7 linked regions of the Homo sapiens genome follow. The protein of the gene in region 7 interacts with the protein of the main gene of each other region in a pairwise test. Each region holds a gene or a part of one and is shown on either strand. Other genes may lie near its edges. The genes, in order: MYO1E, ARG2, OXR1, ZNF18, NISCH, ZNF224 and CLIC6.

Region 1 (3,469 bases), on a different chromosome or scaffold from region 7:
AGTGCTGGTGGCTGTGGGGACTCCAGCATGCTCCTCTGTCCCAGTTCTGGTGGTATCTTCCTCCCACTGCGGGGAGTCCATGAATGTGAAAGTACTTTAGAGACCACTAGTGTCAACAGGATTACCTTTCCTCAACTCACCGCATCATGGCTCTACTTTCCTCTCTGGTCGCAACATGGAACTGAAGTAGCCTTTTAACATTATTCGTTACTGTTACAGAATGGAGTTTGCTCCCTGTTCTTGAAGTAAAACACAGCAGAATTAAATGTATCTTCGTTTCAAATCTAGATCAATTTTTTTCCCTTATACGTAAGCCCTGATAATTTTTTCCCATGGACTTGAGGATCCTGAAAGCCTCAAAGGTGTATGCTGCTCAAACTCTAAGTTACCAGTAGCTTAAGAATGGCTATGGCACCCAGAGGAGGAAAGGTAGAGAAATGGCAGTCTCTACTTACAACCATTCCATTATTGATGGGCATTACACTGATTCCAGCTTTTCACTATTATGGCAAGAAAACATTGTTTTAGTTTGTTAGGGCTGCCGTAACAAACTACCACAAACCGAGTGGCTTAAACAGCGAAATGTATTGCCTCACAGTTCTGGAGGTTGGAAGTCCAAGACCAAGGTGGGCAGGGCTGGTTCCTTGTGAGGGTGTGAGGGAGAATCTGTTCCAGGCCTCTGTCCAGGGCTTGTGAATGGCTGTCTTCTCCCTGCCTTTTCACATGGTCTTTCCTCTGGCATGTTGGTCTCTGTGTCCAAATTTCCCCTTTTCATCAGGACACCATTATATTGGATTAAGACCCACTCTAATGACTTCATTTTAATTAGTTTTGTTTGTTTGCTCCATAAAGACTCTATTTCCAAATAAGGTCATATTGTGAGGTACTGGTGGCTGGGACTCCAACATCTTCTTTGGAGGCACACAATTCAACCCATAACAAATGTCATAAAAGAAGAAGGTGTTCGCCGATTCCTTTATTTATTTAGGAGGTGGGGGCAGGACGCGGAGTAAGTTTCCTATAGGGAAAGAGTTGAGAAGAGTCTGCAGGGACTGACCTAGAAAGCAGTGACACTCCGTAGTTGGAAAAAAGCAGAGCACATCTTTAAGTACCTGGTGTGAGTTTTGTAAGAAAACCTACCTTATGAATGAGTACAGTGGAATACTACTTAGTACATTCATACATGTTTCTACCATCTCAAGATTTTTATATATACAGTATATGATCTGTTTTTATAAATGTACAGCTTGAAAAAAGATCCTTCTTGTAGTAAGTACAGCATTTAAACACAAACCAATATGGGCCAGCCACATTCTAATTGAAGACCCAGAGAAAGCAAAGCCAGCAGCCCAGCCCCCAGCCCCCAGCCCCTGACCTGCTTGGCGGCCCTGATGGTCCCGGCAAAGTGTAAACCAGTGCCCCTCTGTCGCCCTGGGCTCAGCAGGCCAGCTTACCCTTGGCACGTACATGGGAAGTGCCTGCTCACGCTAAGCCCAGTCTGCAGAGGGCGGGTCCTCCCTGAAGGAAGGTGGCAGAGAGGAATGTGTCTATCAGGTATGGACAAGAGAGATGAAAGAAATGTGCTCTTCAACTAAAGGCACTTGTCAGCGGCCACCTACAGCCATTCTCTAGGCCTGGTGAGCAAGCAGGGTGCTGTTTTGATAGAAGCCTACAAGGTCTGAGCAGACCTCACTTGTCCTCTCACCAGGTTTAAATACAATAAATAAATCTTAATGCATGGTGGTTTTGTCCTCCTGGGTTCCTATGAAGAGGCTACCTTTTAGGATCACTTATGGAGTGATACTCCCTGTCCCCAACCCAGCCTTTTCAGTGTCCTCCATGGGGAAGGTACCAGAATAGCTCCAGGCCTTGGAGAAGCAATTGCTCATTGTGGATTGTAAGGGGAGCCCCTAAATATCCCCTCCCCTGGTCTGTGCCTGGAGCTCCTCTGCCCCATGTGTCAGAGTCACGGGCACCTCAGATCTTGGTCACATAGTTGTTGGGGAACAGGCCCTGCTTGCCTCGTAGTCGACCCGTCCACCAGCCAGAAGGATCTGCAGGGAGAGAGAGGTGGTGGAAGTGAAGATGAGAAAGTCTGTTCTGCCCCAGCCACACACACTCCGCTCCCATGGGCTCAAGTGATTTGGCTCCATCCATGTTGTTTTCCCTTTGTTCTTTAAATCAAAAAGTTTGTTGAAAAAAGTAAGATATCTACCAAATTAATAAAGCACTCAGCCAAGCCCATGGACTGCTTTAATAATGGATATTCAAGGTTGTCTTCCTGGCTTCCACTCCATCCACTTTCATTATGAAGAAGCCAGGAAGTGTGGGTGGGACAGACCTCCCCGTTTCTGGGGACAGCCCCTACCAGGTCTCATCCTCTCAGGGTACAGCCTTTGTCTTGCTACTGAAGTTGGTTCAGGGATGGACACATGGCTAATTTGGTCTGATCAGAATAAAAGTCAGGACTTTTGTCCAATGACTAAGAACAGAAGTTTCAGAGATGATGCACATTTCAGACATGGTTTGATATGTTGGCCTGGAATTGCTGCTGCCGTTTTGCTACCATGAAGAAAAACAGCTTGACAAGGGAGGGAATATAAATAAGGGGGCAGAGCTGAAAGAAGCATTAAAAAAGCTGGTGTCTTGATCAGACTGAGCCTGAGGCCTGACCTGCCTCTACAAATTGCAGTTTGAGGAGCCCATAAATTCTTTTCATTTTCACACTAGATCTTACAGCAATGTGACTGCATGCTCTTTGGGAGGCTGTCCCAGCCAACCAGCCACACACTTACCTTCTTTGATAATATCAATAATGTCATTGGCATTAAAGCTGAGTTCGTCTGTGTCCTGAGCGTCATAGGCATACAAAGCCTTGCACTGTGGCACCTGAGGCTTGGGCTTGGGCTGGGGCTTGGGTCTGCCCCCTGCTGGGGGAGGCCGACTGGTTGTTTGTCTCCTGACCCTGTGGAGAGAGTGGAGCAGATGAGACTGGGCCCCAACAGGGGGCAGCAGCACCGAACGGTGGTTTGGAGCATGGCGGCCGGCACTGGCCTGTTCAAGTTCAAATCCAGCTCCATCCTTAGAAGACATGTGGCCCAGGGTGCAGTCTTTAAACTTGAGGAATAAAAGTAACTTTTCTGACAAGGTTGTTGCAAATGCACATAGCTCTTAAAAACCTTAGCTGCTGTTGTCACTGTGTCCCCAGCATAGAAGGAAATGTGGGAGACACATATCCATAAAAAAGTGTCAAAAGTATACCCATACATTTAAATCAGGAACATTCAGGTATCTGTCCCTCCTTCCTCAAGTTTCGAAATGGAACTTTTGCAGGTGCCACAGAAGCCTGTAGGCATTTCTCCTTCACTGCATTCCCCCCAGATTACCACCACCTTACAGTTTGTATTAACCATTCTCTGGCTCATCTCTACAGTTTGCCACACATGTAAATACCCCTAGCCAATATTTG
Region 2 (3,500 bases), on a different chromosome or scaffold from region 7:
ATATTGGAAACAAGACAGAAAACTTTGTCCTATTCTTTTTTTCCTCCCCAGCCCTTGTGTCACCCAGACCTATTCTTAAAGGTGAGATACACCTACAGCAAGAATTCTGTATTTATCTTTTGGTCATTACACTTTAAGAAATAGTCATATAAAAGGCCCCAACCTGGAGAAGATCCAGACAACCAGATAAAAAGGTAGCAGAGCAGGGGTAGGAGGAGAAAAATATGACAACAGGCCAAAGACATTGTGAACCAAGATAAAAATGTGAACCAAATAAAACATCTATAAAAATCTTTTATTTTTTTAAAAAAAGACAAAAAGGTTTGAGTAAAGTCATTATGGACTTCACCAAATCTCAAAATATGGAGAGGATACTTTAGACTTAAGAGAATGAAAGCTTTAATTAACCTTCAAGTCAATATCAAGTCTTTCCTCTGTCTGTTGACAACACAATCCTGGACTGCACAGACTTTTTTTTTTTTTTTTTTTTTTTTTGAGACAGGGTCTTGCGCTATCATGCAGGCTGGAGTGCAGTGGCACAATCTCGGCTCACTGCAACCTCCACTTCCTGGATTCAAGCAATTCTCCTACCTCAGCCTCCCAAGTAGCTGGGATTACAGGTGTGCGCCACCACGTCTGGTGAATTTGTTTTTGTATTTTTAGTAGAGACAGGGTTTCGCCATGTTGGCTAGGCTGGTCTCGAACTCCTGACCGCAAGTGATCCACCTGCCTCGGCCTCCCAAAGTGCTGGGATTACAGGCATGAGCCACTGCACCCAGTGTACTGTACAGATCTTGAATGGACAATTCCTGGATGTTTCTACTTTCACCTCCATGTTTATCTCAGCACTCTCCTTAAATCACATCAACCATTAGGTTCTTACTAGATGTAAGACACCAGGGTATGCCTGGTGTTTTATAATATTAGGTGTACAATTATAAAAGATTTATAATCTTTATAAATTTATATTTTGGTAATTGCACTCTAAGGAATAGTCATATAAAAGGCCCCAAACTGGAGTTAAATAATATTAACTAACGTTTCAGAACTATTTGCCAAGCACTTTCATTCAATCCTCATAGGACCAAGAAGAAATACAGGGAAATTAAAGTGCTCAATCCAGTGGATAAGTCACAGAACTTTGGGACTACCCAAGTCCAATCATGCAAACCAGGATGTAGACTCAGATAAACGTGACAGAAAACAGTACTCACTTGTATTAGAAAAAAGCTGCACAAAGCCTAAAAAGGAACCTAAAGAGAATTTGGCAATCTTACAGTAACGTTCCCAGGAAGAGAGACTGAATTTCATAGAAGGATTTCAGTCGCTAATTCAGGCCACCACTCTGCTCTCATTACAGGTGCTAGAAGGGTTACTAACTTCTGTCGGGGGTTCATCAGATTAATTCCCAACCTGGGTAGTGGATTCTGTCCACATTGTCCAACTCCATTTACTCCGATGCCATCTCACCAAACAGCATTCTGGCTATTCAGTTGGTTTCCCACATGCCTTAATATGGGCAAAAGCTTCTAGACAGTGGACACTGGAAGGACTACTGCTTAACATAATTATGCACGGGCATTTTGGTTGATCCAGCATGGTTAGCATGAGTCTGGGTCTGAAAGCCTGATGAGCTATGCACTCAGCAACCTTGTGTTTCTGCATCCACAAAGCTAAGGGCCAGCCTCCTCTAAAGGGATTTATACCTTGAGAGGCCCTGCCTGAGTGGCCTACCTTCCTGCTCCCAACTCTGTTTTTTCTTTTTTCCCCCTAGAATATTCAGGAAGAACGAACTCAACTCTATAATTTGCACAGTTTCAGTGCCAGGTAAGGACTTGGGACAATGAGTCCTAAAGGAGTCAGGGGAAGTTCACTGAGGATCAGGGGCGTCAAAGAAGAACTCCTATGACAAATAGTTTGTACTTGCACTGTTTTGTTTTGAAATTCTCTGTAAAATTGGATAACGTGTATATCAGAGGTCCCAAACCTACTGCCCGGGTTTTACTACTGTATCCTTTCAGACTTTAATCATTTTTTTTCTTTTTTTTTTGGATTATTTGTAGAGACAGGGTCTCACTGTGTTTTCCAGGCTGGTCTCCAACTCCTGGGCTCAAGTAATGCTCCCATCATGGCCTTCTAAAGTGCTAGGATTACAGATGTGAGCCACCATGCCTGGGCTAGTTATAGGCATAATACATAATATTATTTTAAGTAAGGTTATTAGAGTAAATTAACTGTCATAGCAAAATATGTTTGAGCCCAAAATATGGCTCAAACAAGTTTATTTCTTGTTTGTTTAGCATCCAGGGTAGATATTCCAGGTCAGCAGGAGGCTTTCCTTTATGCAGTAATTCAGAGACCTGGCTTGTGGCTCTCATGCCTAGGACTTTGCCATCTGTGTGGCTAAGTCTAGGTCTCCCCAGGTTCAAGGCAGCGGGAGAGGAAGAAAGCATTGAGAAAGCACACCTCCTCTTTTCAAGACTCTGGCCTGAAAGTGGCACATTACTCCTGCTCACTTTTGGCACTGGCCAGCAAATGCAGGTCTAGCTTATGTCCAGAACAGAATGCGAATGGATTTTGGTGGACAGCTAGCAATGTATGCCACCGTGAGTACTTTTTTATTCTACTGCCATAACCTTTAAGAACAAAATATGAAAGTTGCTCTAGGATTACAAATTTATGTTAAACTATTCTAGTTAATTACATAACTGAATCAACAAATACATGATGCCAGCCTGATGTCACCTCTTAAGAGCTTTCTCCTCTAATGCCCACTGTGCCAATAGTATTGGGTACTACCAATACCCAAAGGACTGGTAGAACAGAACCCTAGTTCTAGGATTATCTGAACCCTGGTTCTAGTATGTTGTTGTAGAAAACATGAATTGTAACCCATCTGCTACAGTTTTTTTTTAAGAGGAGTGAGGAGGCTGATGGGAAGTTAACTTTTTGTAACAGCAGGATGAACTGAGTAATATTAAAGTTCTTTTTTTTTTTTTTTTTTTTTTTGAGACAGAGTCTTGCTCTGTCGCTCAGGCTGGAGTGCAATGGCATGATCTCGGCTCACTGCAACCTCCACCTCCCTGGTTCAAGGGGCTCTGCTGCCTCAGCCTCCCCAAGTAGCTGGGATTACAGGCATGCACCACCATGCCCAGCTAATTTTTGTAGTTTTAGTAGAGACGAGGTTTCGCCATGTTGGTCAGGCTGGTCTCGAACTCCTGACCTCAAGTGATCCTCCCACTTCAGCCTCCCAAAGCGCTAGGATTACAGGTGTGAGCCACCATGCCCAGCCTTAAAGCTATTTCTTTATCAGAGTGCTGTGGCAAGTTCTTCTGGTTCATAGGTCATAAGAAACGGTCTCACTAATTTTTCAAGAAGCTTAGGGTAATGATGAAAAATGCAGACATTGTAATGTGTAAGGAATATGTGTCTGGCTGTTATGCCTGTGGGAACTTTCCCTTTCTCTAACTGTGCATCAGGTCAATTCATCTGTAAGTCCA
Region 3 (3,500 bases), on a different chromosome or scaffold from region 7:
TCTCTTTCTAGTAATTCATGATCACTAAAACAAGTTTCTGCATCCTGAATGGACATCAGTCTAATGTGCCTGCCCAGCAGGCACATTATCATTTATTCCCCTCTTCCAGTAGTAACAGATTATAGATTATGCTTTAGGACTATTGGTCAAAATGGCCTATTCTTCCCCCAAACTCTGTCTCTCTCTCTCTCTCTCTGTCCTTTCTAAATGCTGAGTCTTGAGGACAGTGACACAATGATGGAAAATAGCTAGAGCTGATCCATTCCAGCACTGGGATATTATCCTGTCCAAGGTCCTGCTCTTCAGAATTTCCTTCAATTCCATGAACTCCTCCATAACCATCCAATGGATTCCTTTCTGCTTAATCTGAATAGAATACACTTCTATTGAAGTCAGTGAAGGAACTCTGATAAGTTACAACATCATAACTTTGAGTTTTGTTCTGTTTTGTTTTAAGATTTACCTTATTTGGACTTACTACTATTAGTAAGTTCCAGTGAAATTTCAGCCTTACTCCATTCCCTTCCACAAAGTAATCTAAATGATTAGTTCAGAGCTTTTCTATGTAGTTATCTATAATGTATCTATTACTGTTTTTGCAAATCTCTGTGCTTCAGTCAGAAGAGGCAGTTGATGGAAAACTTTTTAAAAGTGCATAGTTTCTAATTAAGCTACTAAAAACCTTTTATTTTCAGTCCCATTAGACAGCAAAAATAATTTAAAAACTGCAATACCAAAGAAAACCTTACCCATAATATTTAGGAACAAACATAATGTGTGCATGATACTCAAACACAAAACTCTTAATACAGTATATAATCAACAGCTATGCCTTAAAGGCTATGTTAAAATGATTTCTCTCTAGGTATTTCTTAAAATTACAGAATATTTTTACCATGCCAGAATGGTAATTTTTTCTTCTTAGTTGTTCATTTCATATTTCAGATAATTAAAAACTGTATCTGAAACATTCACATGACTTTATGCTTTCTCTGTTATACACCCACCAATGTAACTGCTGATTGGAAATTTAAAAACATGCTGGCAAAGAGGTAAAAATCTCACTTCAATGATACTTTAGTCGTGTGAAAGAATACCTTTCAACTTCTTTAGTCTTCTTAAGAATTTAAGAACCTAAATAGATATAACAGAAAATGAAAGTCTGGTTCATTTCTGTGGTTTTTAATTTTTGAACTGCATTGTGCTAAAGTATCTCCCCCACCTCCCATGTTGGAAACTACATATGGAAAAACCAATTGCTACACTGACATACTTACCACAAGCAGACTACATTTTATAGTAGCCTGAAAGCTACTAACTTTAAAAATGCAAAGATATGTGATTTTATTTTCCCATTTTAAGACATTTTAAAATAAGGCACTTACATTTATTTATGTGACTAAACCATTGGATGAATGAAAACAGAAGAAAATATTTTTCACTCAAAGCCATTTATCATGGCTGTTAACATTCTTCTGCTTAATATGTGATGTATGACATCCAGTCACTGTGATCTACGCAAAGGGTGAAAAATAAATGAGAGAAAGCATCCTTAGTCCATTAATATGTTAATTAAAAAAGTAAGATCACATTTTATCTTAGAAAATGACTGCATTTAAGAGACTGCATTCAACAGCCCTAATGGATGATGTAGAATTTTTTTTTTTAATATACATTTAACAAGTTAACCTTTCTGGATTTTTTTTTTAGTTGCCCATGTTTGTAGATACTAAGACTTGTTTGTACATAAATCTTAGTAGCCTTCCTGTAAAGTGTAATTTGGTATGTAGATGAAGGACCAGAGGTTAGTAAGGTAAGCCAGGAACAAAGGAATAAATCACGGGATGTTAGATTAACAATTTACATGATGACAGCTCCTGACTTTTATCAGAAAACAGTGATTCTACTACCTAGTATCTAATGTAAGAAAATATATTAATTTGTTCCTTGAACAGTTGTTTGTAGCAAAACATAAATTCTAGTGTGTACCCAGCCAGTCTAATGATGTAGATTGAAGGAAGAGAGCTAATGGGCACTGCTGTCATTAATCTTGAAAATTCAGATCAATCATTGGAAACACATATTCAGTAATGGTACAGAAAGAATCCTCTAGACTTTAACCATGACCCAGATGAAATAAAACCATGGCTCTAACATTTTTCTTTGGGGCCAAACAGTAACATAAATGCTGTGGTGGCTTCTTATTGTGCTAGCATACAATCAGCATACAAACAGCAATCCCTCAATTTTCTATGGGAAAACACACTTCCTCAACCAGTATATTCCACCTTTCCAGCCACTATGACTGGTGGAGGGCTCTTGACCTGACCAGGGATATTTGCTGGAATTTCTAGGAACAGCAGCTTCCTCTTTCATCTGTAAAAGGTACAGGAAGAGACTGTCCTCTTCACTAGGTTTGAACCTGGGAACATGAAGCTCTGAAAGCTTCTGGCAGCCATCTTAGAACCCTGAAGAGTAAGCCTGTCAAGGACATAGCCAAGATTAAGGAAGAGGAGCTAAGAAATTGCAATGGAAACTGCAGTGCAACTGGTCACATGGGTGTGAGCCCTGAATCAGGTCCTGCTTAGAGTCACATAGAGCTCCCGGCTCCACTTACACAGTCATGAATCATGTCTCTCTTTTTTTTCCTCAAGAAACTTGAGATCAGGCTTTATGATTCTTGAGAGTAAAACAGTTGGAACTAATTCAAGCATAAATGATCACTTGCAAGGGCACAGCTGAAGTGTGGTGGAATTAGCAGAGTACAAGGACAAAGAGGGTGCCAGACATCATGCTAGCATCTTTACTTGCTTATGTCACCGAATCATCACAGGAATCATAACCTATAATCCGGTGGATATGATTCTTAAAAAGTAGTAAGGTAGAAAGTAATTTGCCCAATTTTTTTGTAGCTAATAACTGAGGAACAGAGATTTGAATACAAACTTGGGTGGTGCTAAAGAGAATGTTCTTTCAAAGTTTCCATCTGTTCTGGTTTCCAATTTTAACTCTTTCATTATTCCAATTGATCATATGCATATCAGTCACCATAAATTACAAATAAGAATACATACATTATTTATTTTACAATGAACAACATACAACAGGTTTTCAGATTTTTATTGAATCTGAAATGCTTCAATAAACCATAATGGCAACAACACTAAACTGGTATAAAAACATCTATAAACTTAATAACAGAATTATCAGCAAGGGCCAATCTTCAATTTTCTGATCATCAAAAAATACATCCTAGTTGAAAGACATTATGCATATGGTTTTGTTTGGTTTTAGAAATCTTTACCTAAAGCTCTACTTATTTTCATCCCAATTAGGAAAAAATAAAAAGGCGTTTAATCTTTTTGACAATTTAGGTGAATACCTGAATTGAACATAATTAGAGACCCATCAGTTACCTTTTTTTTTTTTTTTTTTTGCCTCTAACAGAATCTAACAGCTGAAAGGAGAAGCTCTTGAGCTAAATATCGGTTCTTGAGCAT
Region 4 (3,537 bases), on a different chromosome or scaffold from region 7:
CGCATGAAACTCACTATACAGGCAGGACACTTTGAGGCATCTAACTTGTGGAGACAAGTACAATTGTACAGTTTAGATACATGTGTTAATAAACCACTAGAGAGTATTATAAACTAGATCAATGCTATCAATTTCTTCCTAACAAACACTCACAGACAAAATTAGACTATAACAGAGGTAATTTTAAAGCATAGAGCACACTTTGGCAAAAATGACAGCCCATGTGGGATGCCAGGAGAAAGGGGCAGCTTGAGGCAAGAGATCAAGTGGAAGGGTGGCTCAGAAAGAGGACACCAAAAACAAACTTACCTGAGATAAAGGTGTTGCCAGCACTGGCCAAGCTCCGATCGTCTGAACATTAGCCTAGGACTTTCCTATTACTGTTCTGCTACATTATGAACTTGAGGTTTATAGGGGCTGACTTTGGAGTTCAACTGCCTAGGGTCTTCTATGAAATAATGTGCTTTGAAATACAGTCAAACACACAGTGAACAAACAAATAAGATAGAAAGTGACTCTGCTAAGTTTATTTCAAACAAGGGACACTTGAAGTTAGTTTTTCACCCCTATGACAAAGAACACACGTGAGCTCACAGGCCCTCTATGCTTCTCCCCTTCTGGAACAGAAGACCTGCTCTAGAACTCATTTTAAGGGGCTGATCTGAGGTTCTTCCCATAAGCAGTGACTACAGCTAATCCCATTAAATGCTTCCCAGAAAGCACTTCTAAAACTGGATCTCCAATTTAGACTTTTTCCCCGATGGGTCCAAAGGAAGGATGAGTGGAAACATGAAGACTATTCTTTCTCCTGAGGCAGAATCAAGAATTTAAGCCATTGTGCAATCCAATCCAAGATATCCTCCAAGTCCAAAGCCATGTCCAGATTCTCTCCTCTCCAATCCAAGAAAAAAGGAGATTAACAGGGGTATCCTCTTAGACACAATTCCTCTTGATGGAGCTGAGTATTTTTGTGACTGGGCTGGGAGATAGAAATGGGGAAAGAGAGTTTGGTTACTGGCTATTGAAAGGGCTTCTTTCCTAAGTGGGATCTTTGATGTTTGTCAAGGCTCGAGCTCCAGCTGAAACTTTTCCCACAGTGCGAACATTTATAAGGTTTCTCTCCAGTGTGAACCCTCTGATGTCTATTAAAGTTTGATCTCTGAATGAAACTTTTCTCACAGATAGGACATTTATAGGGTTTCTCTCCTGTGTGGATTTTCTCGTGGTGGCGCAATCCTGAGAAGTCACTAAAGCCTTTCCCACAGTAATCACATTTACAGGGCTTCTCTCCCGTGTGAGTTCTCTGATGCTTCACAAAGTCTGAACTCCGCAGAAAGGCTTTTTTGCAGATGGTGCACTGAAAGTATGTCTCTCCGGTGTGAGTTCTTTGGTGAAAAATAAGCTGAGAATTCCTATAAAAGGTCTTCCCACACTCCCTGCAGGTGGGGAGCTTCTGGGCCATGGGGGCTCTTGGCTGCCCCTTCTGGGAGGTCTCTCTCTTCTCCTCAAGCCACATGGTGGACATTTCTCCTGAATGAGGATTAGGCAAATGCTGACCTAGTTGTTTCTCAGAAATCCTTTCTTGAGGAGACAGCTGTTCCCCTGTTCCCTCATCCTGAATGTTTTGCAGAGCCTCAGGGAGATTCTCTCCTTCTCCAAAGCATCCTGGCTCATCCTCAGTGAAGAAGCCCCTCAAGGAAGCCTGAGAAGGAACCTCTCCTGAAGCTTGACAGGAAGCATGCAGGAGCTCCTGGTCCCTGTGATTCTCCAAATTTAGGTTCTCCTTGTCATTCTCTTGTCTATCTCCTAAAAGAAGAAAGAAGATTTGAAATGGTTCAAGTGCTATGCCCTGTTTTCTAACTCATATGTCAAAGAGAGGGTCATCATAAAACATTCATTTTCTTTTTTTTTTTTTTTTTTTTTTTTTTAGGGCATTAGTAAGTGAGAAAGAAAACTACCATATGGCCCAAATGTTCAAACTCACTTCCCCTGTCCTGGGTTCAAGGCTAAATGGTTCAGCTCTGGAGCTGAGGATTTTTAAACAACACAGGAGTACTCATAAAGTGATCACTCCGTAAATAAAGCCACATGTATTTCTTAAGGACCAGGAAAAAAACAAGTATATTATAGGCAACTACTGCTTTTAAAGTGATTTTTATCTGATTATATATAAAAGATAAATATGGTAACTAAAAAAAAAAACTGAAGAGAGAGAAATATATACAGAAGAAAACCAAATCCGCCTCAATCTTACTACCCAGAGATAACAACTATGAGCATACATTTCCTTTCAGTCTTTTTAATTTAACCTATATGTATGCAGGTATATGCTATTTTCTGACATAATTTGTGTCATATTGTACATATAGTTCTATATCTAGCTATGGAGCATTTAATTGTGAATGGTGGCATTAATCAATGTAATATAGAGTCTCCCTCTCCCATTCATAAGACGCCCAAAATCTGTGAAATGCACGTGTCATTTTACCACAGCTGCAATGCAGCGGGGCTTTACTATAAAAGTGAATCCCTTGATCTGTGCTTGAATCTAGTATTTACATGCCCTTTATTAAATCACACTAGCAACTGGAAGTTTGTTTTTCTCATCGTAACTTGGGTTTTTGGTTATAGTACTTAATGATGCAAATAGAAAATTTTTATTTTGGTGGTAGGATTTTCAACTTTTATAAATTATTTTAACTATATAGATCTAAAGATGCCATTTACCTTTCTCTTTCACATATTAGTGTCTTTTCAATTGTCTGCCAGGGATCTAGACATCTTCTAGAGAGCTAGATCTGAACTTGTTAAGTCAAAAAGCCTTAGAATGTCCCTGAATCTAAAAATAAAATAAAATAAAATAAAAGCCTTAGAATATATTCCTCTCAAATGGCAAAGGTACTTTCTCGTGTTTTTAAAAAAGCCTTTATAAATATCATTTTAAAGAGCTGAGTAATGGCCCATCAAGAAGATGTCATAATAAACATATAATTTGTTCCCCTACCATGGAAATCTAATTTGCTTATTGTGTTTTTGCGACTACAAATAATGCTGTGATCAGCAGTTTTCTTCATAAGTTTTTGCCCACATTTCTCATCAATATCTCAAAGGAATTTCTCAAAGTAGAATTACTGTGTCAACGGGCATAAATATTAAGGCTCTTGACACCTACTGGCAACCCAACTTCCAGAACAACTCTGCCATCCTCTCATATGTGAAATTGGGCAGAGGGGGAAGTGGGTATTCAATACTTAAATATTGAATATTTTTAAACTTATGCCATTTAGATGGATGAAAAGTGGTTTTTCATTGTTTTAAATTTTAATTCTTAAGTTATGAAAGGATGAATCTTTATCACATTTATGAGCTATTTTTCATACTCGAAGACTGCTGCCCATATTTTACTGGGAAAGCACATTTTTCTTATCAACTTTCTTTAACTCTTTCTATATCAACAAAAATAATCATTTATCTGTCATGGTCATGAAAACTTTTTTTTTGAGATGGAGTTTTGCTCTGTCACCCAGGCTGGAGTGC
Region 5 (3,500 bases), on a different chromosome or scaffold from region 7:
CCTGCCCAGGCCGCTGCTCTCCTGCAATCCACCCTCTGCCTGCTAACGTTCAACTCCTATTCACCTTCGAGATTCACCTCAGACACCACCTCCACTGCAGACCTTCTCTGCTCTAGACAGTCTACAAAAGCCCCACACCATCCTACCCTGTTCTCCTCCAGCACATGGCTCATCCTCCCGCATGGCTCCAAGCTCCCCAGGGGCACAGTCTGGGTCATCTTGAACCCCCTACTAAGGATGTGGGAAAGGGCAGCCCTCATCGACCACCTCTGTGGAGCTCTGGGTAGTGCCAAGCGCCTCCCCAGCATTCGCTCATGCATGCCTCTCGTTATTTACCACATTTCATCAAATCTAAGATGCGGCAGGTGGCGCCATCTTGGTCCTAGCGGAAGGTGTCCACGGGTTTTCCACGACTCCATCTCGAATACCAGCTGGCTGACAGCGACTATGAGACGCCACTGACTGAAAGACGCACCTCAGTTTCAGAGAAGTCACAAGGTGGAAATGCGTGCCTCTTAGAATCAATGAAGTAGGGTGCGTCCACTTCACAGTTGAGAAAACAGCTTCAGAGGGGCTACAAGTTGCTTGAGGTCCCACAGCTAGGAAGCTGGCATGCGAACTCAGCTGACCGAGCCCTGGCTCCTAACCACCTCTCCACACAGCCTCCTCTCAGCCCCTGGGCCTGGCTGGACAATCAACTCTGGCGACCACCCCTATTGGTCACAATCATCCATGGCTCCGACAGCGCCTGCCACGACGGGAGGCTGGGTGTTGTCTGGACAGCGCCCCCTTCAGGCAGGCCCGAGTGCCAGTTCCTTCGCAAGCAGGCTCCCTTCTCGGGAATCAGGCTGGAAGCAACAGGCATGGGTCAGCAAAGCTGCTCCCACGCGCTAAAAAACCCTGTCCATCCAGGCAAGACCCAGGAACACGCGGCTGAAAAAACACACGGGGAGGCCTCCAAATCAGTGAGAAAAAGACCAACACCTTTTGCCACTACCTCCCACAAGCCCTGTTTGGACCAAGGAAATGTGGACAGGGACAGGGACAGTCTATCTGCTCCCGTCCTGGACCGTGGCCTGTACAAACAAGTGGTCAGAAAGGGCACTCAGCGGATAGAGCGGAGACATCAGGAGAGTCCTTAGGGGTCCGATCTTTGCTGTTTCTCACCAAAAGGAAAGAGAGGTGCACACAAAGACATCCACTGCAGTTTTATTTAAGAGGTGCAAATCTGGAGGCCATGTCCAGAAGTCCAGCGATGGCGGGGACAGACTGCAGAGTGCCCCTCTGCAGAGTGTCCCCAGGGCACAAGGGGAGTGAGGAGGGGGCTGAGCTGGTGCAGAGGCTTCTCCGACAATGTGGGGGGCTGCCTGCAGCTGCAGCCTGGGGACATGGTGCATCCCCACCCATCCAGGGCCTGCTCTTCACTGGCTCCTGCTCTACCTGCCCACTCACTCACTCACTGATCAACAGATGCTGGCAGAAATGGCTGTGTCCCTGGCCTTGAGAAGCAGATGCAGCTCCCTGTCCCCAGAGGCCTACAGTCATATGGTACCTCCACAGGCTCGCTTGGCTGCGCTACAGGAGGCAGCGTCAGGGAAGCTTTCTCACCGTGATATAACCTCCCTGGCTTTTATGTAATAAAATGCAACCAGAAATCCTTAGTCAAGAGTCTGACAGAAGCAAAATGGGCAATCATCCTGGCACCTAACCCCATCGCTCCACGCTCAGGAATTCTCTTCCACATCTCACAGGTGTGACCTCAGTGTGCTGCTCTGCGTTGGGCCTTTTGCCTTAACTTGAATGCTTCTCCCCTCTTCCTGCCCAGTCTTCCTGTCCCTGCTGGGAGGGCTGCTGAGCATTCTGCACCACAGCCGACTCTCCCTCTCATCCTCCGATGTTGCAGTTGCAGCCCGTGTTTTGGCAGTGGTGAGCATTTCACCTCCCCTTCCCGGTATCTTATCCCTCTAAGAGAAAATCCCCACCAGTGGGGTTACCAGGTCAAGGGGTGGGAATGTTTTTCTGGCTCTTAAAACATCGGGTTGAACTGTTTTCCCAAGACCTCACACCAAGTTCTGCGTCTCCAGGAGCCCGGGCAGGCGGCGTCCTTTCCTGCGTGTCCCGAGCCTCGGCTCCACTCGGGACGGCACACCCTCCCCTCTTCCGTGGGGGCCGGGCCAGCAGACACGCTCATGAGACCTGCTTCACTCACTCATCTCCGAGGATGCCTGGGTTCAGAGGTGAAAGCCCTTTGAAAACGCTAAGATAGTGGGCAGACGAATGGGCCTGGTCTTCCATGGGTCCACAGGGACAGAGATGGCCCATCTTGGCCCCACAAACATGGTGTTCTGGGGCTGGGTCACCCCACAGAGATGAGGCAGTGATAAAAGCAAGCTTTTCCCTGCACAGGGATTCGGGCTCCAGACAGTAAAGTCACAAGCCCGGCTTCCTGTAACCAGGAGCCAACCTGCTTGTGCTGCCGGTGAGGGAATGGGTCCCATGAGCCAACAGCCCCGAGCCTGTTCAGAGGGCAGCCTCAGGGCCTGTCAGACACCCTGCGGTCTCCTAGAGGAGCTGGATGTGGGCATCAGAGCAATTGGGAGTCCTCACCAAGCAAGCAACAGCTGGCATCAGGCCAGGCACCCCTGCCATGTGTCCCCCCGCGAGGACCAGCCTGCAGAAGGCACTGCCCTCCCTGTGTCTGACCCTGTTGGAAGCAGGTGCTGGCACCTCTCCCCCAACCCCAGCCCAGCCAGGGGGCCCAGGCAGGGCTGTGTGGCTCCACTAGAAGCAAGATACATACACGATTACCTTGGTTAGAGAGGATGGGCTGGGGCAGGGAGGCAGATGCGGGAGCCACAGTGGGAGGGGAGCTGCTGGGTCTGATGCAGGGGGCAGCTGAGAGCCGGGAGTCTTCACCACCCTGAGGACGAGTGCTTGAGTCAGCCCGGGAGAGAAGAGGAAGCACAGAGCTCCCCAAGGCCAGGGGTGTGAGGAGGGAGCGCAACGGTTCCCACCAACTGGGTGGTAAAGATGGTCTCATCATATCCTTAGAGCAGGAACTACCACTGTCCCCACCCCACAGAGAACAGAGAGGCCGCGACTTGCCCGAGGTCATGCAGCCAGGGAGGGGCGCAGCTGGGACTCGGCAGCCCTGAGCAGTCCCATGGCCCAAGCCCCCCAAACTGGCTCCTATCCCGGCTGGCTCTGCACCACTGCCCTCCCACCTGCCACACAAACCCACCTTCTTCTCTGGGTTGCTCAGTTTGGACTTGACCTCCTTGGCTTTCTGAATTGCTTTCAGCACTTCCACAGTGTCCAGCTCCTTCTCTGTGGTCACTGTGTCATCCAGACAGACCTAGAGCATCCAGAAAGTGGCTATCAGCATGGGGACTGGTGATGGCTATCAGCATGGGGACTGGTGATGGCTATCAGCATGGGGACTGGTGAGCATGGCAGGAGGATGGTAGGGCTCTGCTGAGGAGGAGGCGTGAGCACCTGCT
Region 6 (4,299 bases), on a different chromosome or scaffold from region 7:
TTTACAGCTGAATGCCCACTAATAATGTTATCTATTCCTAAGAAACTTTATTCTTTTCAATTTTTTTTAAGTAACTTTATAGTGGAGAAATCTGAAAGACAGCGTCTCGGCCAAGTGGACAAGGTTGAGATCACCAATGAAGAGACAAACTGACATCACTTGGACCCTGTTATGTTGCAATGAAAAGGACATTTCAGCACTTCTGTGGTATCCCTACCAACAATGCATAATCTGAACCCGCAATTCACCACTTCTGTGGTATCCCTACCAACAATGCATAATGTGAACCCGCACATGAATTACATCAGACACAACTCCAAATGAATGCCTTTCTCCAAAATAACTTGCCTATACTCTTCAAAAATATCAAGCATAGAAAGACAAAGGGTGTAGAATCCTCAAGATTAAAGATTATGGAAATGTGACAATTAAAGGCAATGCATAAAATTAGACTGTGAACACAGGTGGTGGTGGCAGATGGGTAGGGGACACTTGTAAGAACCTTAAGTGAAAAATAGAACAAATTTAAATATAGAACTGCAGAGTACATAACATGAAGTTAGGTAATATGTTATCTAGCACTGTATAATAGATAATACAATAAACTACTATTAGCAGTCTTTGGATAGATATCTAATATTTAATAAATAACATTATCTGGTATACAATCTGAAATTATCTAATATGTTATGTGAAACCATATACTAGGTCTTCCTAAATTCTACTTACCAAGACAGCCCCTGGTACGTGGGCTTCCTTGCTGCAGAAAGCTATAATCAGCTGTCTCTGGTTACAGGTATGTTTCTAGTGGTATTCAGCTGATGGTCATCAACAAAACAAACAGGAAAAATGTAAACACTTGGCAAACGTGGGTAAAGAGTAAATAAGAATTTCTTAGGCTACTTTTGCAACTTTTCTATAGGTTTCAAATGACATGAAAATAAAAAGTTTTATAATTTTAGGAAACAGTCATAGGAAAAATAATAACAATAATGAGATTAATGAGTATGATATAACATGATAATTCACTAGTTTAGTCTGTCAGCATTTGGAAATTTCCATAGTTAAACACATAAGGGGGAAATATTAAGAAAAAAATTATAAAAATTTGTAAATGTTCATAAATAAACCTATAAATATACAAAAAGAAAGAAACACATTACGAGCTTAACAGTTGCTACCTTTACTTCATGGATTCGTAGGTAATAAAAACATTTTGTTCTTTTTTTTTTTTTTTTGAGACGGAGTCTCGCACTGTCGCCCAGACTGGAGTGCAATGGCAGATCTCCGCTCACTGCAACCTCCGCCTCCCAGATTCAAACGATTCTCCTGCCTCACCCTCCCGAGTAGATGGGATTACAGGCGCCCACCACCACGCCCAGCTAATTTTTGTAATTATTTTTTAGTAGAGATGCGGTTTCACCATGTTGGCCAGGCTGGTCTCGAACTCCTGACCTCGTGATCCGCCCGCCTGGACCTCCCAAAGTGCTGGGATTACAGGCGTAAGCCACCGCGCCAGGCCCATTTTGTTCTTAATAAAGAAAAATAGAATGCTGTACAATGACATGGTTCTATAAGAATACAAAATATTTGTAATGATTGAAACAAAATAGTTGACAACATTTTTAGAAACTCAGAAAATTTCAAGCCCCTAAGTCTTGCTTTCCCCACCTAAGTCCAACTAGTTCCTCTGCCTCAGTGACAACGTATCCCAAGAGAAGATCAAATCAGGCTCTGACCCAGACTGCTTAGGTTCCAACCCCAGCTCCACCTCTCACTAGTCGGGTGCCTATGCGCTCTGTGTCTCACTTTCGTTTTTAAAATAGAAAAAAGCAATACTTCTCCACAGAGCCACGGTGTGGCGTAAATTTATTTGTATAAAGCCCTTAGAATGAAGTTACTAATTAAGACTTAATTATTATCGACCCCCATGCCCGAGGACACAACCTATACACTCTCGGTTGGGGTGAGCATCTCGGTCAAAGAGCCAAGGACCACTCACGTAGAGCTTTGCCCTCAGAAGCCAAGAAGTCCCTCCCTGCAGCTCTTCTGGAAAGGTCGGGTTGGGGAACGAGAAAGCTGTGAAACACCTTGACCGCGTCGCCGTCCCCCATAAAAGTTAAATGCTCCTTTCCCTTCATGAAAGTGGACGCAACCCTCGCTCTCCTAAAAAGAGGTCAGAAGGCTTCCGGGATCATCCAGCGTCCTGCAGGGATCAGGGAGAAGGGCCGAGGCCCCTGCAGCTGGAGCTCTGACCCCACCCGGTCCTTCGTGGGAAATTAACAAGAGACCACCAGTCACCAAGTGACAGGGACTGCTTTAAGGCTCTCATTTGTGTTACCTCTTCCAGTTCCCAAAACGATTCCATTAGGATGGCCCTAAAGTCCCCATTTTAAAGAACAGTAACGGGAAACCCAAGGAGATTAACACCCCAACGTTATATCGAGAAGAAGTGGCCACGCGCGTGGGGTGCAGGGGGCGGAGTGGGCGAGCTCAGAGCCCCGGAAACCCTGAAACCAGGTGAGACGCGACCCAACCAAGTACCAATGCCCCCGGGAAGCGAGGACAGACCCAAGCCCAAGAAGGTGCCACGGACGAGAACGCAAACAGCGGCCCTTGCCCCTCCAAACCTCTACTCTCCGACGAGGCCCCTTTTCCCCTAATTCGATCACCAGTTCTTTGAGGATCCAATGCGTAGGTCCAGGAAATTCAGAAGGGCCTGCAACGCGCGGAACTGCCCCAAACTATCGCGGAAAAACTGCAGCAACCTCAGTCCCCGAGCGGAAGTGTCCGCGACTCCACCGAATGTTTGGACTCCACTTCCCAGAATTCCCCGGGACCCGCCAGCCGGAGCCAAACTGACCGCGACTCCACTGAGCGTCTGGACTACACTTCCCAGAATTCCCTGGGACCCAACTGCCGGAGCTAAACCGACCGCGATTCCACTGAGGGTCTGGACTGTACTCCTGCAGCATTACACTCAAAGGGAAGTGTTGACGACTACTGGGAAGCCCTTGACCACTCTTCCCACGGGGAACGAATCTCGTACCCCCGAGCGCCTGTTGGGAAATGTGGACTTCTACCCTGAGAGTCGTCCTTCCCTCTCCCTGGGTGCCTAAGAGAAAATACCGTATAGAAAGGAATTCCTGAAGTCTAAACCCCTCTAGTGAGGACAGGAGTGTTACTGGAAAGGGAACAAGCGAGATGATACACTCTTCAAATAAGTTTTGCCAGTGGTAAGAAATGGCATGTAGTTTTAATTTATAACTCTTGTAAAGATGGCATATTCTTGCATATTTTCAGGTGTCATTATTACATTTTTTGTAAATTGTCCAGATGTTTTGCCCACTTTCTTATTGAGTTTTTGGTTTTATCCCTCACTTTTCAAGCACTGTTCTTATATTCATGATATTAACATTTTATCTCGCAAATATTTTCTCAACAAAAACGTTTTTTTTTATTGTTTTATCTATGCAAAACATTTTAATGTATTTTATTATTTAAAACATCTCTATTGAGGTGTAATGCACAAAACGTGAAATTCACCATTTTAGGATATATGTAGTACAAATAAAAAGTTAGGAAACATTTTCATCACCCCAAAAACCCCATACCCACTAAGCAGTCACTGTCTAACACTAATCTCTGTCCTATTGAATTACCTATTGTGGACATTTCATATAAATGGAATTATACATTATGGAACCTTTTGTTTCTGACACCTTTCACTTAGCATCCTGCTTCTTTTTTTTTTTTTTGAGACGGAATCTCAAAAAAAGTGCCAGGCTGGAGTGCAGTGGCACGATCTTAGCTCACTGCAACCTCCGCCTCCCGGGTTCAAGCGATTCTCCTGTCTCAGCCTCCCGAGTAGCTGGGACTACAGGCGCGTGCCACCACGCCTGGCTAATTTTTCTGTATTTTTAGTAGAGACGGGGTTTCACCGTGTTAGCCAGGATGGTCTCGATCTCTTGACCTCGTGATCCTCCCGCCTCGGCCTCCCAAAGTGCTGGGATTACAGGCGTGAGCCACCGCGCCCTGCCAGCATACTGCTTTTAAAGTTCATCCACATCACAGCATGTACCAGTACTTCATAATATTTTATGTTTCTACTACGATTTGTTTTTTTTGTTTGCTTTGTCTTGTTTTGTTTTGAGGTGGGGTTTCCCTCTTGATGCCCAGGCTGGAGTGCAATGGCACGATCTCAGCTCACTGCAACCCCCGCCTCCTGGGTTAAAACGATTCTTCTGCCTCAGCCTCCCAAGTAGCTGGCATTACAGCCATGCGCCACCACACCCAGCT
Region 7 (2,365 bases):
TATTTTATTTTATTTTATTTTATTTTATTTTATTTTGTTTTTCATTTCATTTCATTTCATTTCATTTCATTTCATTTCATTTCATTTCATTTTGAGACAGGGTCTCACTCTGTTGCCCAGGCTAGAGTGCAGTGGTGTGATCTCAGGTCACTGCAACCTCCACCTCCCAGGCTCGAGGTATCCTCCCACCTCAGCCTCCCTAGTAGCTAGGACTACAGGTGCCCACCACCATGCCTAGCTAATTTTTGTATTTTTAGTAGAGATGGGGTTTCACCAGGTTGGCCAGGCTGGTCTTGAACTCCTGACCTCAGGTGATCTGCCTGTCTCGGCCTCCCAAAGTGCTGGGATTACAGACATGAGCCACTATGCCGGTATGCCAGGCCTGTCCTCACCATTTTAAAAGAAGCCCATACCATTCATTTTATTTCTTGAAACCTAAATGGAGAATGGGGAATGCAAAAAATAATAAAAAATAAAAAATAAAACCCAAAAGAAATTGGTTCCATTTAAACATTTTTATAATTTGTTTCATTTTCAAGGCACAAAGAGTTTATGTCAATCATTTTAATGTCTAAGAATACAAAGTTAGCACTAGTAACATCTGGTAGTCTAATCATTTATCATGCTTAAATGTAACATTACAAAACTACATTTTAAAATCTGCCCCCTAACCAGATGTGAAACAACGTGGACAAGGGTGACATGTGCTAGACCCAATCTCCAAAAACGTATGGTTGACAAAGACAGCTGACTGCTGGGGTAAAACTGCAGCAGTCATAATCGAAGAGCGAAAGAGGCCACTCTATTAAAGACTTTGTTTCTTTTGCTAGACATTTTTCACCTAATCCCAGGATAGTTTCTGTTAATGCATCTTACTCTCTTTCAAACGAATCGTCCCTAGAGCAGGTGTACACATTAAAAATGAGCTTTATAGCATCAAACACATACCACAACCAACTCTACAAGGAGGGTTTTCTGTAAGATGTGTACGACTGTCCGAAGAACACATTCTGGCTGATAAGTCTCAGCTCCTGTGAGGTCCTGATGAGTATCTAAACAACCTCACATTTTCTCTTCCACGCCTAGGGTTAAGGCCAGCACTCAGCCCACACACAAAGCTGTGATGAGAGGTTGGTTAGGGATGGTGGAGGCAAAGCCACAGATCAGCCAGAAACTCTTTTGAGTCAATAGTTTCTACTCCCTCCCTAACTGGACCGTTTACCAGAACTGCCCAGGACTTGTCACCATGAATTTAATCTCCCTGGATTTTCCCTGCTTGATGTCTAGATGAGACAATGAAGGGCAGAGAAGTATTGCTATCCCCACACGATACCACCAGCACTGAGGGACTGCAGCCTTGGGTCTCAGAGAGAGCCGCCCGGAGAAGGAACCAAAGTGTGCTTGGTTCACATTTCAGGGCAGGGAGGTTCTCCAAGTTGCAGCAGATATTAAGAGTCCTGCTGAAGGCACAGTCTCTAAGAGAGGGGAGGGAGCAAAGACAGGAAGCTGGAACCAGAGACACGGATAAGCACCCTCCCCCTTGCCTTTCCTGGAAGCAGAGGCAGTGGCATCCTGGAGGCAGAAATGAGGCAGAGTGGGGGTGACCCAGGGCTTCCGGTTCCTGCTGGTCATTGCGTGCGCATCTGTGGGCTTCACAATTCCCCACTCCTTAAAATCTAACCTCAAGCATCTTCTCTGGCACTGCGGTGCCCAATATTTTTGTATGGTGTAAGTCCTCTGTGTATGATCATCCAGGAATCACCAAGAGGTCCCCTCACCAGTGCTTTAAAATAAAATAATGCAATACCATATATGAATGAAATTGTGTGTGTGTGTGTGTGTGTGTGTGTGTGTGTGTGTGATAGAGAGAGAGAGAGAGAGAGAGAGAGAGAACAAGATACTGAAGATTTGGAACATGTTCTCCAGTAAGTTTTCGGTAATTAAGTGGAGTAAAATTGAAGGCGATTGTTAAAATGTCCTTCTTTACACCCTCTGATATTGCTTTAAAATATCAAGATAGGTGTGTCTCATTTTGTAATTACAAAGCAGTATTTTCATTTTGAAGAAAATTAAACTAATGTTTTAGAGAAGAAAAACAGGCTCTCAATGATTTAAAAAACTCTCAGAGACCAGTTTTTTAAAAATTGAAGGAATTGAACCCAAACCTAATTTGTTTTCAAACACACTGTTTTCGTATCCTTGCTCACTCAACTGAGAAATAAGACAGAAAACAGCCCAGCTTCATTTCATTCTTTTTGCAACATCTGAATATGCGTGTTCAATCTCTTGATCAGCTGGACACGTATTTGTGAACTCATCTCTAGCATAAGCATTATTCAAGTATCTCCAGATGCCAGTCATTTCA

What was found.
Region 1: the proteins of CLIC6 (region 7) and MYO1E interact in a two-hybrid assay, tested with the Homo sapiens proteins (one large-scale study listed by BioGRID and IntAct).
Region 2: the proteins of CLIC6 (region 7) and ARG2 interact in a two-hybrid assay, tested with the Homo sapiens proteins (one large-scale study listed by BioGRID and IntAct).
Region 3: the proteins of CLIC6 (region 7) and OXR1 interact in a two-hybrid assay, tested with the Homo sapiens proteins (one large-scale study listed by BioGRID and IntAct).
Region 4: the proteins of CLIC6 (region 7) and ZNF18 interact in a two-hybrid assay, tested with the Homo sapiens proteins (one large-scale study listed by BioGRID and IntAct).
Region 5: the proteins of CLIC6 (region 7) and NISCH interact in a two-hybrid assay, tested with the Homo sapiens proteins (one large-scale study listed by BioGRID and IntAct).
Region 6: the proteins of CLIC6 (region 7) and ZNF224 interact in a two-hybrid assay, tested with the Homo sapiens proteins (one large-scale study listed by BioGRID and IntAct).

What each region holds. Positions count from the first base shown.
Region 1 is NC_000015.10:59,135,403-59,138,871, forward strand, and holds part of MYO1E (unconventional myosin-Ie), read right to left. Parts: intron 2,966-3,469; coding exon 2,796-2,965; intron 2,055-2,795; coding exon 1,978-2,054; 3' UTR 1-1,977. UniProt on the Homo sapiens protein: Actin-based motor molecule with ATPase activity. Unconventional myosins serve in intracellular movements. Their highly divergent tails bind to membranous compartments, which are then moved relative to actin filaments.
Region 2 is NC_000014.9:67,636,920-67,640,419, reverse strand, and holds part of ARG2 (arginase-2, mitochondrial precursor), read right to left. Parts: intron 1,828-3,500; exon of another isoform or gene 707-1,827; intron 1-706. UniProt on the Homo sapiens protein: May play a role in the regulation of extra-urea cycle arginine metabolism and also in down-regulation of nitric oxide synthesis. Extrahepatic arginase functions to regulate L-arginine bioavailability to nitric oxid synthase (NOS).
Region 3 is NC_000008.11:106,276,690-106,280,189, reverse strand, and holds part of OXR1 (oxidation resistance protein 1), read right to left. Parts: intron 1-3,500. UniProt on the Homo sapiens protein: May be involved in protection from oxidative damage.
Region 4 is NC_000017.11:11,976,939-11,980,475, forward strand, and holds the end of ZNF18 (zinc finger protein 18), read right to left. Parts: intron 1,807-3,537; coding exon 1,019-1,806; 3' UTR 501-1,018; downstream 1-500. UniProt on the Homo sapiens protein: May be involved in transcriptional regulation.
Region 5 is NC_000003.12:52,479,604-52,483,103, reverse strand, and holds part of NISCH (nischarin), read right to left. Parts: intron 3,356-3,500; coding exon 3,242-3,355; intron 2,921-3,241; coding exon 2,809-2,920; coding exon of another isoform or gene 2,585-2,808; exon of another isoform or gene 2,226-2,584; coding exon of another isoform or gene 2,206-2,225; exon of another isoform or gene 347-2,205; coding exon of another isoform or gene 337-346; intron 1-336. UniProt on the Homo sapiens protein: Acts either as the functional imidazoline-1 receptor (I1R) candidate or as a membrane-associated mediator of the I1R signaling.
Region 6 is NC_000019.10:44,092,862-44,097,160, reverse strand, and holds the start of ZNF224 (zinc finger protein 224), read right to left. Parts: upstream 2,801-4,299; 5' UTR 2,631-2,800; intron 819-2,630; 5' UTR 730-818; intron 1-729.
Region 7 is NC_000021.9:34,716,359-34,718,723, reverse strand, and holds the end of CLIC6 (chloride intracellular channel protein 6), read right to left. Parts: coding exon 2,242-2,365; 3' UTR 501-2,241; downstream 1-500. UniProt on the Homo sapiens protein: In the soluble state, catalyzes glutaredoxin-like thiol disulfide exchange reactions with reduced glutathione as electron donor. Can insert into membranes and form voltage-dependent chloride-selective channels.